2 linked regions of the Homo sapiens genome follow. The protein of the gene in region 1 purifies or fractionates together with the protein of each later gene. This does not show direct contact. Each region holds a gene or a part of one and is shown on either strand. Other genes may lie near its edges.

The links. Proteins that work in one complex are often made in the same cells at the same time.
Region 2: the proteins of HSD3B2 (region 1) and MTHFR purify together in Homo sapiens (affinity purification with mass spectrometry; 2 studies listed by BioGRID and IntAct, with this or other methods). This does not show direct contact.

The regions. Positions count from the first base shown.
Region 1 is NC_000001.11:119,413,865-119,417,949, forward strand, and holds the start of HSD3B2 (3 beta-hydroxysteroid dehydrogenase/Delta 5-->4-isomerase type 2), read left to right. Parts: upstream 1-1,285; 5' UTR 1,286-1,338; intron 1,339-1,466; 5' UTR 1,467-1,555; coding exon 1,556-1,697; intron 1,698-4,085. UniProt on the Homo sapiens protein: 3-beta-HSD is a bifunctional enzyme, that catalyzes the oxidative conversion of Delta(5)-ene-3-beta-hydroxy steroid, and the oxidative conversion of ketosteroids.
Region 2 is NC_000001.11:11,792,465-11,795,964, forward strand, and holds part of MTHFR (methylenetetrahydrofolate reductase (NADPH)), read right to left. Parts: intron 2,885-3,500; coding exon 2,634-2,884; intron 2,400-2,633; coding exon 2,265-2,399; intron 2,075-2,264; coding exon 1,894-2,074; intron 1,626-1,893; coding exon 1,443-1,625; intron 1-1,442. UniProt on the Homo sapiens protein: Catalyzes the conversion of 5,10-methylenetetrahydrofolate to 5-methyltetrahydrofolate, a cosubstrate for homocysteine remethylation to methionine. Represents a key regulatory connection between the folate and methionine cycles.

The DNA.
Region 1 (4,085 bases):
AACCCTGAAAAAGAAGAGTAAAATAAACCCAAAGTTAATAAACATTTAAGCCAATAATAAAAATAATGAAAATCATGAAATAGAAAAATGAACAAACAATAGAGACAATCAGTGGTCAATTTTTCTGTACTCCATGAACAAAACTTCAGTTCAGAATGATTTTATATTTAAATATATATCCAGAATCACAAAGATCTTAGAAGAAAAAATTAGGAAAATATAGGAATAAAGTGGGAACTCTGTGGGAATAAAAATCAGAAAGTAATTGCCTACCAGGTAAACTCGGGGGAGGGCAGGCAATTGACTAAGAACAGGCAGATAAAACTTTCTGGAGTGAAGGAAATGGTGGTCTTCTTTTCGTTGGTACTTACATGGACATATATAACTGTCAAGGTTCATTGACAATGAACACTTAAGTGTACACTGAACGCTTAAGATCTGGGCCTTGTAATGCCCAGATTACATCTACTTAAAAAAACTACATCTCTATTTTTTTAAGTAGAGAAAAGTGTCTTGGGGAGTTTATGGCAGTGATGTTTGGGCAGACTGGGGCATAGGTTTCAGAAGCATTCATAGCATCTTCAGTTCAACAATTTGCTAAGAATGGTTTTGCAGCCAAAAATGTAAGATGAGTGCAAATATCTATGATTAGAGTCATTGGGCATACAACTACAAATCCCCACACTTGTATTACAGGCCATATGATTAATTCGTTATCACTAGATACCTTTCCTTCAATGAGGTTCTTCCATTAGGAACCCAGAGCTCTCCAGGGAAAAATTGCAATTGAGGTTTTGGATATATTGGGTGGAAAAGAAAGTCACCTCACATAAAACTTAGTGATTGGAGCTGTCACCATTGAAAATTTCTAAACTTTGCAAGACAGCAGTGACGTTTCAAATGACACTCTCAGAGAGTTGATAATGGGCTAAAATAGATCTCCCTCCAGGTGGATTTACTGTACAAGGACAACATTTACATTGCACTTGGAGACTTCTCCCAGTTTGGTTTAAGTTCACAGATTGCAGATCCCAGACAGCTGGTATCAACTGACCAGTGTTCTGTTAAGGCTAAAGCCAAGACTCTTTATCACACTGTGGCCTTAAGATTGGATTTCTCTTCCTGTTCCTGGGAAGAATTAGAGATATAACCTAAAGGTCACTATTATTCTGAGAAAAGGGATTCTGGAGGAGGAGGGAGCAATGAGTATGTGGCAGGAGTTCAAGGTAATAAGGGCTGAGACACAAGCCACAGAGCATAAAGCTCCAGTCCTTCCTCCAGGGATGAGGCAGTAAGGACTTGGACTCCTCTGTCCAGCTTTTAACAATCTAAGTTACGGTTAGAGCTTTCTCCTTTTCTTTCAACTACTCCTGGCAGTTGTGGGGTCATGGAATTTTTGTAAAAAATGGGGTGGAGGAAAATAAGGCATCTGCTGAGTGTATAACCATTTTACCTCTTGTTTTTAGCCCTCTTCTGGGTCACGCTAGAATCAGATCTGCTCTCCAGCATCTTCTGTTTCCTGGCAAGTGTTTCCTGCTACTTTGGATTGGCCACGATGGGCTGGAGCTGCCTTGTGACAGGAGCAGGAGGGCTTCTGGGTCAGAGGATCGTCCGCCTGTTGGTGGAAGAGAAGGAACTGAAGGAGATCAGGGCCTTGGACAAGGCCTTCAGACCAGAATTGAGAGAGGAATTTTCTAGTAAGTAAACTTGAGTCATGGGTCTGTGGCTCCATCTTAAACTCTGCATGGGTGTGGGGAGGTTGACCTTGTCTAGCAAGTTAAGGAAAGTTGTAGCCAAATGAAAGCCAGTCACACATCTAAAGTCATCAGAAAGGAAATAGAATAAAATGGTATAGTGTGAAAGATACTGGATGGGGTGTCCAGAGACTGGATTCTGGCCCTGACGCAGAACTTGAGAGGCAGCCATGTCAGCCTCAAGGCCCCTTTTCTTCTCTTCTAGAGAGTCACACATGAGTTCTCCTTCTTGTCTACAACTCTTATGTTCTGAAGCTTTTTGTCTTGGCGATTGCTGTGCGACATTCACAAAGGACATCATTTACCTGGAGACCTCACCAGTGGGTCCTGCCTGTCTAGACTGCCCCAGGCTTCATTTCATTTTATAGCTTCCTTAGTATCTTTAGTGAGGGCAAAATAAAAGGAAGTGAAGGTACGGATGTGTGTGTAATTGTGTGTGTGTGTCAGACAGAGAAAGAAAATGAGGGGGAAAGAAGGTCAGAGACAGAGAATGAGAAAGACAGAGAATGAATGAGAAAGATAGTGTGAGGGAGAGCATCAGCAAGAGAGAGAGAGTGAAAGTGAGAGAGATCATCAGTGAGAGAGAGAGAAAGAGAGAAAGAGAGCATGCACAAGTGCACGGCACAGAGCAGAGACAGAGTAAAAGGCAGTATGAGGCCAACATGCCTCATTTATATTTCTCATATATAGCCTTTTTAAAAAAAAACCATTTGTATCTGTTGTTCAATACTCCAAATAAATTGACTGCAGAATTTGCTGTAGTAACTCTTTGTGCAAATAACCCTGTGAGGAAGGTAGAAAAGGGGTCACCTCCAACTGGACAATGAACCCATCAAGTTCCAGAAACATAAAGTTACTTGCCAAGAACAGCTGATTAATGTGTAGCAGAGCTCAGACCAGAGCTTCATTCCAGAAGCTTCATCACTTGACCCCCGGGCTAATCCTTGGTGGGTCTTCAGTCTCTCCCTTTGCCTCTCTGTGTGCCCCAAACCAATTCCATGTTTTCCTCCCAACCCAGGGGACTGGGGGAACTATGTATCTTCTTCATGCAGGTTCTGGCTGCCTAGAAGGTCCTGCCCTGTTCACACAGAAGCTCCCCTTGACACTCTCCTCTTCTTTCACTCTTCTCTGACCTCTTTAAATGTCCAATTTCCTCCACTCTCTGTTCTAATAGTGAACAGATATTAACACATGACTGATATTAAATGTTTGTAATCCTTATGTCTCAGCAATATTTACAATCTAACATCTGATACCAGGAAAAAGCAATGCTCAGTCTAGAGGAAGAGTTCTGCTATGGTGAAAATGCAGGGAGCATAATGGATGGGCAGGGCCTGTATGAAGATAAAAACAGAGAATCCTTTCAGTGTTCTTTCTGTGCCAGGCACTGTGCTAAAGGTTTTGCATGTGCTGACTCATTTACTTCCCATAACAACCCTATGAGATGGGTAATACTATTATCCTCCTTTTTTATAGATGAGGAGACAGACACAGAGAGGTTAATCAACTTGTCGAAGGTCCCAAGTTAGATTACGGCAAAGCTGGATTTGAATCCAGGCAGTCTAGTGCAGCTTCTGTGCTCTTAAGTAGTAGTTTGTCTAGCAGCTTCTCTGAGCCTCCCTCCAGCCCAACACACAACACAAAAGCAACTGAATTTAGTCTACATGAAACACTTGCCAAGTCCACAGTGCCTTGGAGAAGGAGGGAGCTAAGACTCCATCAAAAATTGCGCTTTTCTGGTCTCTCTAGATCCATGGAAACTCACCGGGGAAGAGTCATTTTCTATCGGCTTTGGACTTCTGCTATGAAATGGCAATTCCTTTGAGCCAGTCTGTCTAAAGTCGGCAGCAAAGGAGAAGCAGATGAAGGGAGTAGAAAAGGTAGAGGTGGAAATACAACCAGAGAAAATTCCACTCTCGGGCTGACACCCACCTCCTCCCCAGCAGCCTCTTCCCTGCCTCCACCATTCCAGGGCCTTCTTGGAGTTGCCTGACAGTGGGAAGGGGCTGGGAGTAGACAAAACAAGGCAGAGGCATCAGAAGAGCAAATGGTCCCACCTGTATCCCAGGAAGGAATTTCTCCAGCCTTGAATTTTTCATTCTGAATTTCGCTCTCACTGTTCTTTGGCCTTTGTGGGCATTTTCAGTTAAACTGGCTTATTCTTACTCTTTCTCAGAAAAGTTGATTCTAAACAGCTATTCCTGCACCTGGGGTACAGGGTACAAAAATGGCAGGTGGAATGGGCAGGTTTGAGCCTTCACTAGAAAATTGACTTTAGATCTGTCCCTTAACCTCTCTGAGCCTCAGTTTCCTCACCAATAAAGTGGGACT
Region 2 (3,500 bases), about 110 Mb from region 1:
GCCATGTGGGCGGAATAATGAACTGTGGCGTTGGCACGTCCATAAGCAAAGGGTGAGGGGAGTGGGGACGTGAGTTTCTCAGTCTGGACAGGTCTGAGGGCTATCAGCCACCCCTCTCCCAATCAGTCAGGGAAGACTCCACGAAGAAGCCATTTCTGAACAGCAGCAACTGGTTTGACAGGCCGAGTCATGGGAGAGAGGCCCCACACATTCCATCCTCCCCAGTGCAAGCTGACAATGACATTGACATCTCCTCTAGAACCAGTGCCTATCAGGGATTAAGCTGGGTTTACTCAAACTCATTTGCTAGAATGCTGATAATACGGGAGGCTGGGCACAGTGAGCCCCACGTGAGGAAAGTGGGTTCAGGGAAGTTGAGCACGTTGGCTACTCTGACAGTAAACAGTAGAGCTGGTCCTTAAACTCAGGTCTTTCTGCTCCAGGGCCTGTGGGCCTTAGATCAGAACATAATGTTAACTCCAGCAGCCCTGGGAGAAAGGTGTCAACTCAGGATAGTAACAGCAGCTGCCTTTCAGGGAGTGCTTCCTGCTCTTACCATGTGCCAAGCACGTTACATGCTTTGTTAGGTTTCATGCCCAGAACACAAGCTACATCCCATTTTACAGACGAGAAAACCAGGCTCAGAGAGGTCGAGTGACCTGCCTCCATAGGTCTGATTTCTATCTTTTTTTTTTTTTTTTTGAGATGGAGTCTTGCTCTGTTGCCCAGGCTGGAGTGCAGTGGCATGATCTCAGCTCACTGCAACCTCCGTCTCCCGGGTTCAAGCGATTCTCCTGCCTCAGCCTCCCAAGTAGCTGCAACTACAGGTGCCCGCCACCACACCCGGCTAATTGTTGTATTTTTAGTAGAGATGGGGTTTCATCATGTTTGTCAGGCTGGTCTCGAACTCCTGACCTTGTGATCTGCCCACCTTGGCCTCCTAAAGTGCTGGGATTACAGGCATGAGCCACCAAGCCCAGCCAATCTTTTTTTTTTTTTTTTTTTTTTTTTTTTGAGACAGGGTCTCACTTTGTGGGCCAGGCTGGAGTGCAGAGGCACAAATATGGCTTACTGGAGGCTCAACCTCTCGGACTCAAGCGATCCTCTCACCCCAGCCCCCTAAGTACCTGGGACTACAGGTGTACACCACCATGCCTCGGTCATTTTTGTATTTTTTGTAGAGAATGGGTTTCACCATGTTGCCCAGGCTGGTCTCGAACTCCTGGGCTCAAGTGATCCACCCGCCTTGGCCTCCCAAAGTGCTGGCCGGGTTCCGTGCCCAGCCAGGTCTATCTGACTTAAAGCATGAGCTCCCATCCGCTCCAATCCATGCTCATTCAAAATTTAAGAGCCCAGGAGAGGCAGGCTGCTCTGCCCTAAGCTCTGGGGAACCCACGGGTGCCGGTCAAGAGAGGGGGGCACCCCGTGCCTCCCTACCACACCTTCTGGAAGACATAGCCCCCGCTGGGGCCCCAGCCCACGATGGGGTCGGAGGACGGCTTCCCGTTGATGTTGGGCTGTGAGTTGATGGTGAGGATGCCCTGGCGGTTCACCCGCAGCAGCTCCTCCTTCAGCAGGCTGGTCTCAGCCGCCAGGGGCTCATCGTTCCAGGGCAGGCAAGTCACCTGGGAGAGACGGTGAGCTGGCTGGGGCGACCATCAGGTTTGGCACCCTGAGTCCCTCTCACGGCCCCCAACAAAGACCCAGCCTGTCTTTGCCTCCCTAAGCCCTTCCAGGTGGAGGTCTCCCAACTTACCCTTCTCCCTTTGCCATGTCCACAGCATGGAGGGGAGGGCACAGGATGGGGAAGTCACAGCCCCGCAGCCTGGCCTGCAGCTGGGGTCAGGCCAGGGGCAGGGGATGAACCAGGGTCCCCACTCCAGCATCACTCACTTTGTGACCATTCCGGTTTGGTTCTCCCGAGAGGTAAAGAACGAAGACTTCAAAGACACTTTCTTCACTGGTCAGCTCCTCCCCCCACATCTTCAGCAGCTCCTCCTTGGGGGACTTGCTCTTCAGGTAGAAGAGGTAGTAGTCCTTCAGCTCCCCAAAGGCAGGGGAAGAGGAATTGCCCCTGGCAGAGGGGTGCCCAGAGGTCAGGGCACACTCCTGACAGAGGGCAGTGCCACCACATGCCCAGGAGGCCATTCCTGTAAATTCTGCCCCTGACTCCTCCCAGGTCAACCACAAGCATGCAAACTTCTTCTGCCCTCCCGCTCCCAAGAACAAAGATGTATTTGCAAGGAAGGTCTGCAGGCCCTCACCAGCGGCCGTTAGGGAACTCGTCCCACTCCTGGGTACGGTAGATGTAACTCTTTGGTCTGGAGGCCCAGAAGATGGGACGTACATCTTCCTCTCGGCGCTTGGGGTGGGCGCTGAGAGCCCAGGGTAGGGGACGCCTGGGTGAGGATGGGGACAGAGAATTGAGACAAGGGATTGGCTAGAGGGAGCCGGAAGCAGGGGAGCACCCCTGAGGCTGAGTTCTTCCATCTGATGCCCTCTGAGACTGGAGCCTTCGATGTGCCCAGCTAGCCATGGCACAGACATCCATCTGTACCACCGTGGGGAGCCAGCACTGCAGCCGGGGCTGCTCTTGGACCCTCCTCTGGGGATCTCTGGGCCACTGCCCTCACCTGGGGTCCTCAGTCCACATCCCCAGGCGCTTCAGCACCTCTGTGGTAGCCATCTCGCGGTTGAGGGTGTAGAAGTGGAGGCCTGGCACCAAGCCACTGGCCAGAAGCTCCTGGCACAGGCTCACGGCCAGCTCGATGCCATAGTTGCGGATGGCAGCATCGTTGTCTTTGATTGGCTCAATCACGTCCTTGATCTCCTGTGGCACCTCCAGCTTGGACAGCTTCACAAGCTGCCGAAGGGAGTGGTAGCCCTGTCCAAGACATGAGGGGCTGTGGCGGCTGCTGGCCAGCCCGTCTCCCACCCTAAATACTTCTCCCCCTTCCATCATCCATGCCAACCACAGTGTCAGGCAGAGGGACCCACGAAAGTCCGATCATATTCTAGGAGCACACCTGGGCTTGGCCTGCCGTTTTCTCCTCTTTTTTCTGTTTTTAGAGACTGAGTCTCACTGCTCTCAAACGCCAGGGCTCAAGCCATCCTCCTGCCTCAGCTTCTCAAGTAGCCGGGACTACAGGCACGTGCCACTATGCCCAGCTTTCCCACTTTTTACAGAGTAGAGCAGCTGCCCTAAGCATTCCAGCCTTGGGTTGAGCCAGCCTTTTAGCCCTAGATGTGTCTGTTGGTAACATGGTGTCATCTAACCCAGCTGTTCCCATGCTGCACTGATCATCCGAATCACCTGCCAAGCTCAAGAAGTAAAACACACATTCCGAGGACCTCCCTCAGATTTACTGAGTGAGAACCTCCAGGGGTGGGACCTGGAGATCCACTTTTTGAAAAAGCTTATCAAGTGGTTCTGATGACAGCCACCTTTGGGAAACACTGATTTAAGCAGGATTTGTAATGAGAATTAGAATCCCTTTTGG